Homo sapiens: one gene and its partner. The protein of the gene in region 1 interacts with the protein of each later gene in a biochemical or structural test. Each region holds a gene or a part of one and is shown on either strand. Other genes may lie near its edges.

Region 1 (3,749 bases):
CACATCTGTGATCTCACTTGATCCCACAACAGCTCTGTGAGATCAGCAGGGAGGCCCAGTTGAAGGAAGGTGACCTGCCCAGTGTCACACAGACAGAAAATGGTAGCTCTGGGACTAGAACCCCAGGGGCAATCTGGACTTCCTGGCTCTAAGTCCTGAGTGCACCCACAGGCTTCTGGCCTGTGTTCCCAAGGAAAGTAGCCCAGAGGGCAAAGCTAGAGCTGATGAAATGGAAGGACCGATGGAGAAGCAGGAGAGCCCAGCCCTCTCTTGATCTATTTACTTTGAGTCTTGCTCTGTCCCCCAGGCTGGACTGCAGTGGCGCAGTCACAGCTCACCGCAGCCTCAACCTCCCTGGCTTAAGCCATCCTCCCGCCTCAGCCTCCAGAACAGCTGGGACCACAAGGCAGGCGTACCACCATGTCCAGAAAATTTTATAATTTTTTGTAGAGATGGGGTCTCAAATGGTTCTTTCTGCCTTGGCCTTCCAAAGTGCTAGGATTACAAGCATGAGCCACCACACCTGGCCCCAGCCCTCTTTCTGTAGTCGTGTGACAACTGACAGCTCAGTACTCCATCTGGGCCTCAGTTTCCTCATCTATGATGGAAGTAATCAGAGAGAAGCTTTGGGATGGTGCCCAGCACTAACATTCTGGATGTGCGACAAGGTGTCTGTGAAGGTGTAAGGGCTTTGAAAATCTTGGCTGAGCCTGGGCTTGGAGTGCCCACGGCTGTGACTTGGCAACCTGTGCCAGCTACTCACTTAGCGACTTCAAGCAATTCATTTCAGCATCTCCCAGCCTCAGTTTCCCCATCTGTAAAACAGAGATGAGGATGATACCTGCCTCACATTCACTCACCTTTGACATACTCTCCAAACAAGTCTGGTGGCCACAAGCCTCCGAAAGGCACTGACCGTAATGAAGATGGCGTTTATCAGACCTCAGGACACCTGTAGTGGCCCTGAATTAAAACTCGTTATAGCTCCTGAAATTATCCTGAGTAATACTATTATATTGCATTTTATGTGGGGTTAGTTCAAAGCATTACCTTATCGCAAACATTTAAAATATACCACCCAGCCTGGGCAATACGGCGAGACCCAATCCCTACAAAAAACACAAAAATTACCTGGGTGTGGTGACGCGCGCCTGTAGTCCCACTTACTTGGAGGGGGCGCTGAGGCAGGAGAATCCCTTTAGCTCAGGAAGTTGAGCCTGCAGTGCGCCGAGATCGAGCCACTGCACTCCAGCCTGGGTGACAGAGACCCGGTCTCAAAAATATAAAGTAAAATAAAATATGCCACCATTTTTGTAACCCTGGTTTGTCATTTATTCACTTTTCATATACTCGAAGCCTTAAAACAAGGCCAGTGGAAAGACCTCACTCCACGAAGCTTTGGGTGGCGGTTGGCGTGGCTCCTAGAGATGTGATTCTTTCGTGCTATTTTGTGGGAGCAGAAACGGAGGTTAGCCCAGGCCTCGAGAGGGCTGGGGCGGGGCGCGGGCTCTGGCAGGTGCGTCAGTCCGCAGGGGAACCCGGGGCTCCACCTGGGCGCGGCGAGGAAGTTACACCATGTATGGGCAGCTACGTCAGGGGGGCGGGCCCGCAGCCTCCGGGGAACGCCGAGCCGGGCCCATCCCGGTGAAAAGGCTGCAGCCGGACTTGGGGAGGCGTCGCCAAGTTCGGGACCGACGGGCCAAGGCGGCGCGTCTCGGGGGTGGAGCCTGGAGGTGACCGCGCCGCTGCAACGCCCCCACCCCCCGCGGTCGCAGTGGTTCAGCCCGAGAACTTTTCATTCATAAAAAGAAAAGACTCCGCACGGCGCGGGTGAGTCAGAACCCAGCAGCCGTGTACCCCGCAGAGCCGCCAGCCCCGGGCATGTTCCGAGACTTCGGGGAACCCGGCCCGAGCTCCGGGAACGGCGGCGGGTACGGCGGCCCCGCGCAGCCCCCGGCCGCAGCGCAGGCAGCCCAGCAGGTGAGTGGGGCCCGACGCCGGTGGTCCCACGGGAGGACCGCGCGTGGGAGGCCGGGGTCAACTCCCGCACGCTCCGGGACTGGAGCGGGGAACCGGAGTCGGGGCCGGGCTGGGGGCTGGGGCGAGGATCCTGCCCCTCGCCGTCCGGGGCCAGTTGCCCCCACCGCGCAGCGGGCAGCAGAGACCCGCGAACTCCCCTTCTCCCAGCCGCCCCCTTCTCCCTCGCCGTCCGCGTCCGTCCCTCCGTCTCCGTGCCCGCTTTCTCTCCTCCTGCCCACCTCTGACTTCTGCGTCCACCCTGCTTCAGAAGGGGCGTGGGCGCCTAGGGTGGTCGCCTCGAAGGCTAGGAGGGTCTCTCCGCTTCGGGCTGAATTCCTGGGATCTGGAGTCTGGGCTGGGGTGAGGGTCCCCACACGGGAGGGAGGCGGGATCCGTCGGGAGAGCAGCTGGGCCAGGGTGGGAGTCCCGGCCCGGTCTGCGACCCTCCGCGTGTCCGTCCGTCTGTCTGTCCTTCGCCCCTCCGTCGCCAAGTCCCTATCGTTTCTCGGCCTGGGGAGTCCAGGGGGGTCCGGGCAGTGGAACCTGCCAGGTCCCCGGAGACCGGCCCTCGATCCCTTTGCCGAATGCGGCGAATAGAGACCTCGAGGTTCCGGGACGTGCGCGGGGTCAGGCTGCGGGCGACTCTCGCGACCCCACTCTCAGCCCCTAACGGCGCCCGCTGCCCGCCGGGGGGCACCCGGGAGGCTGCAGGTGCCCATTTCCTGTCGAGGGGCTGCGAGCACGTGTCGACAGGGGAGGGAAGGAGGGGCGTCCGTTCCGCCGAGTCACGGCGGCCGAGTCACGGCGGCTGAGTCACCCGGGGCGTCCCTCCCTTCCTGGCCTGGAGCGGCCCGGGCCCGGGAGTGGGAGATGCCGCCGGCGGTGCCTCGGACCCGGAACTGGGGTCACTGGGACGCCGGGCCCGCAGCGCTTGGGCTCGGGCTACCGCTGTCGGGACTTGCCTGGGCTTGTGGGCGCTTCCCGGACGATTGGGCGCCCACACCCAGGGCCCAGCGGCAGAGCTAGAACCCACTTCTCCCAGAACACTGAGCCCCATCCCAACCCACTCCTCAGATAGCTGGCTGATAGAATGGGAACAGGGACGTTGTGCTGGGCGCTTGCTACATCATTTACCATATTTCACGGAATCGAAGACCTCATCGATTGAAAAAAAAACCCACTATAACTTTATGCCACTAATTTTCTTTCCTTCTCTTTCTTTTCTTTTTTTTTTTTTTTCTGAGACAGGGTCTCCCTCTGTTGCCCAGACTATAGAGCAGTGGTGCAATCACAGCTCACTGCAGCCTCAGCCTCCTGGGCTCAAGCAATCCTACTGAGATCCTAGCTGGGAAGCGACCTGGCCACAGGCACGCACCACCACACCCAACTAATTTTTTAATTTTTTTGTAGAAATGAAGTCTCACTGTGTTGCCCGGTGTGACCTCAAACTCCTGAGCTCAAGTGATCCTTCTACCTCAGCCTCCCAAAGTGCTGGGTATGAGCCACCATGCCTAGTCCACTAAAATTTTTTAAATTGCCAATTAAACTATGATTTCAGAGCTATTAAAGGGTACTTCTTAACATCAGTGAAATCCTGTAATCCTCACCTGTAACAATATTAAAAATGAGGAAACTGAGGCACATGGAGGTTAAATAACTTGCCCATGGTCACACAGCCAGTAAGTAGCTGAGAGCTGAGATTAGAATTGGGACAGCCTGCCATGCCAGGT
Region 2 (3,749 bases), on another chromosome or scaffold:
AAACAGTAAACACTAGTTGTTATTCTAACCTAACCCAGCTTCTGTTGGGAATGCCAATGAGTTTGCAGCCATATGTTACTGGGCCAGTGAGCTTCTCATTGACTTCTTCTCATACTCTTCCTTTTGTCCTTTCACCACAAACAGGCAGCAGAAAACAGCTGAAACGGAAGAGGGGACAGTGCAGATTCAGGAAGGTGAGTGCTAGAAACAGAACCAAGACTAAGAACCCATCATGGCCTCCCTTCCTTCCCCACCAGACCATCTCCTGTGCATCCTCCTCCTTCCGTGACATGCAAATGGAACGGGGGTAGAAAGGCAGTTAACTCACAGACTTTTCCTTTGTTCTTTTAATTCAGGTGCAGTGGCTACTGGGGAAGACCCAACCAGTGTGGCTATTGCCAGCATCCAGTCAGCTGCCACCTTCCCTGACCCCAACGTCAAGTACGTCTTCCGAACTGAGAATGGGGGCCAGGTAAGGGAGGGGGCCAGGTGGCTGCAGGTGTTATCTGGGGTTGGGATTGAGGGAGGTAATTGAACATGTCTTGGGGAGACCTGGCTTGGAGGATGAGTTGAAAGAGTGGACTGTTGCAGGGGAGGGAGGTGCTAATACTGGAGTAGAGACTGGTGTGAGGTTAGATGTATGCTGAAACCTCTGTGTGGGGAAAGAAGGGAGAATGGCTGAATCCATGTCTCTGAAGGACTTTGTTTTGGGGCCCTATCCAAGGGAAGCTTTATGAGGGGCCCTAGGATTCCCAACACTTAATCTTTTCTTCTCTCTTCACTCCCTCTGCCTTCCTCTACACTTCTAGGTGATGTACAGGGTGATCCAGGTGTCTGAGGGGCAGCTGGATGGCCAAACTGAGGGAACTGGCGCCATCAGTGGCTACCCTGCCACTCAATCCATGACCCAGGTACAGGGTATGGGCTGGGGAGGTCACTAGAGTTCTGAGAAGTAAGATGAAGAAGGGAATCAGTAGGATGGGGGTGAAGCTAGGAACAGTGAGGCATCTAAGGCTGCCTTGTCCCAAAGCACTAGGCTCTCCTTTTCTGGATGTTTCTCTCTCTCTCTCTCTCTCTCTCCACCCTACCTACCACCCCAACGGATAGAAGCTGCAGAGTGGTGTAGTGGGAAGAAGTTTTTGACTGTTACCAGAATCAGTTTTCTTGCTCCCCTTCCCAGGCGGTGATCCAGGGTGCTTTCACCAGTGATGATGCAGTTGACACGGAGGGGACAGCTGCTGAGACGCACTATACTTACTTCCCCAGCACGGCAGTGGGAGATGGGGCAGGGGGTACCACATCGGGGAGTACAGCTGCTGTTGTTACTACCCAGGGCTCAGAGGCACTGCTGGGGCAGGCGACCCCTCCTGGCACTGGTGAGATATTGCATGAGGATGCTGGCTGAAAGGGCTAGAATAGGCTGTGGGACATGACTGGTAGGCAGTGAGCCTTCACTCATGACTCTTAGTGATCATTAAGACCTGGACAGGCAGTGAGTCTGGGGCTGCTCTTCTATTAGCATGTTCTTTTTAGAGGAGGGGACCAGGGTCTTCACCTCAGGGCTTGGTGAGGTTCCTACCCATGTCCTGACAGAACCTACCCTGCATCTTCACAGGTCAATTCTTTGTGATGATGTCACCACAAGAAGTACTGCAGGGAGGAAGCCAGCGCTCAATTGCCCCTAGGACTCACCCTTATTCCCCGTGAGTGACCCTTGTTTCTTCTCAGATTCCGTAAGTGGTTTTTTTTTTTTTTTTTTTTTTTTGAGACAGAGTCTTGCTCTGTCACCCAGGCTGGAGTGCAGTGGCATGATCTCAGCTCACTGCAACCTCTGCTTCCAGGGTTCAAGCGTTTCTCATGCCTCAGCCTCCTGAGTAGCTGGAACTACAGACATGTACCACCACCCCTGGCTAATTTTTGTATCTTTAGTAGAGACAGGGTTTCACCATGTTGGCCAGGCTGGTCTCGAACTCCTGACCTCAAGTGATCCGCCTGCCTCGGCCTCCCAAAGTGCTGGGATTACAGGTGTGAGACACCACACCTAGCTACCATAAGTGGTCCTAATACCTGCTAAATCTTGTATAATTCCTTAACCCCAAACTTCAATCATGTATTTTGTCTTCTTACTCTGGCCACCCTGGGCTCTGTTGTCAGGAAGTCAGAAGCTCCCCGGACGACTCGGGATGAGAAACGCAGGGCTCAGCATAATGAAGGTAGGTATGATCTGGGTGGAGCTAGAAGCTGTCTGGTGTGATCTCAGCAGTGATGTCTGAGGGGAGGAGGGATTAGGTAATTTTACCCTGGGACTTGTGGCGAGTTTTCACTGAGTCACCTTGTCCTCCACTTTGCCCCACAGTGGAGCGTCGCCGCCGAGACAAGATCAACAACTGGATCGTGCAGCTCTCCAAGATAATCCCAGACTGCTCTATGGAGAGCACCAAGTCTGGCCAGGTCATGGAAAGACCCTGGTAGTGGGCAGGATGCCTGAATTCTGCCTCCTGGTATTGTTTCCAGAAATGGTAGAGAGAGGGGCACACATGACAGTAGTCTTATCTCTCCCTGAGGTTCCTGTATCCCTGGGAGATATTATACCACCTTCCTTAGATGAAAATGAGGTCCAAAGTGTGAACCTACTTTTGGAAAGCAAGCTGGGTATCTGAAATCCTAGTTCTCATTTTGTTGACCTTATCTTGCAGAGTAAAGGTGGGATTCTATCCAAAGCTTGTGATTATATCCAGGAGCTTCGGCAGAGTAACCACCGCTTGTCTGAAGAACTGCAGGGACTTGACCAACTGCAGCTGGACAATGACGTGCTTCGACAACAGGTCAGACTCCTACCCCCAGTGCAGCCCTTCTCAGTTCTGCTAGCCACTGACCCAGTTTGACACCCTCTACTTTGTTCTCCATGGAGAAGGCTTCATCTTTTCCCCCTCACCAGTGGATGTCTGAATACATTCAGGGGCTTGGAAGTGCCAGCTTTACTACCCATTCCCTTTACTGCCTCCTTCCCATGTCAGGTGGAAGATCTTAAAAACAAGAATCTGCTGCTTCGAGCTCAGTTGCGGCACCACGGATTAGAGGTCGTCATCAAGAATGACAGCAACTAACTATGGGGATTCAGGGGCTTTGGGCCCAAGAACTGCAGATAGCCCAGGAGCAACAGCCTAATCCCGTGCCCCTTTCCTTCACTGCCCCACTTCTGGCATGGGACAGGGGGAAGTTCAGAAGGTGTGTCCTTGAACTGAGGCCCTGTGATATGGCGGCCTGCAGTGGTGTGAAACACACAATGTGGACGTGCACTGACAGCCTTGCCCACCCCCACCATGCAGCCCCTGGGCCCTTGTGCTCCTCTCGCACAATGCATGTGCTGTCTCCATGCTGGATACTGGACACACTAAACTCTGGGGCTTGTCCTGTGCTTGCTTAGAGTGCCCAGCAGAGGTTTGCTGACAGGTGATGCTCTGGCTTGCCCCAGGACTCTGGCACTTCCATTGGTTCTTCCTTTCCCTGGAGCTGAGGTTTAGATGTGCAACCTGTGGCTCAGGGGAGCAAGCTTACACAAGAAGTGAGGGAAGGATGTTTAGCAGTGGCTGGTGCCCATGAAGAGGAGATTGGCCAGTGAGAAGCTGAGGCCTATGCAGACATCTCTGGAGCCAGAGAGAACAACAGGCAGGGGCCCACTTGGGGCCTTCCCCCTTGTGGGGGTCGTTTTTTTTTTTTCTTTTCTTTTTTTTTTTTTTTTTTTTTTT

What was found. Proteins that work in one complex are often made in the same cells at the same time.
Region 2: the proteins of FOSL1 (region 1) and USF1 form a complex in vitro, tested with the Homo sapiens proteins (one study listed by BioGRID).

The regions. Positions count from the first base shown.
Region 1 is NC_000011.10:65,898,472-65,902,220, reverse strand, and holds the start of FOSL1 (fos-related antigen 1), read left to right. Parts: upstream 1-1,832; 5' UTR 1,833-1,881; coding exon 1,882-1,980; intron 1,981-3,749.
Region 2 is NC_000001.11:161,039,278-161,043,026, reverse strand, and holds part of USF1 (upstream stimulatory factor 1), read left to right. Parts: intron 1-144; coding exon 145-194; intron 195-354; exon of another isoform or gene 355-356; coding exon 357-472; intron 473-809; coding exon 810-911; intron 912-1,180; coding exon 1,181-1,376; intron 1,377-1,615; coding exon 1,616-1,703; intron 1,704-2,154; coding exon 2,155-2,213; intron 2,214-2,356; coding exon 2,357-2,451; intron 2,452-2,696; coding exon 2,697-2,825; intron 2,826-3,017; coding exon 3,018-3,107; 3' UTR 3,108-3,749.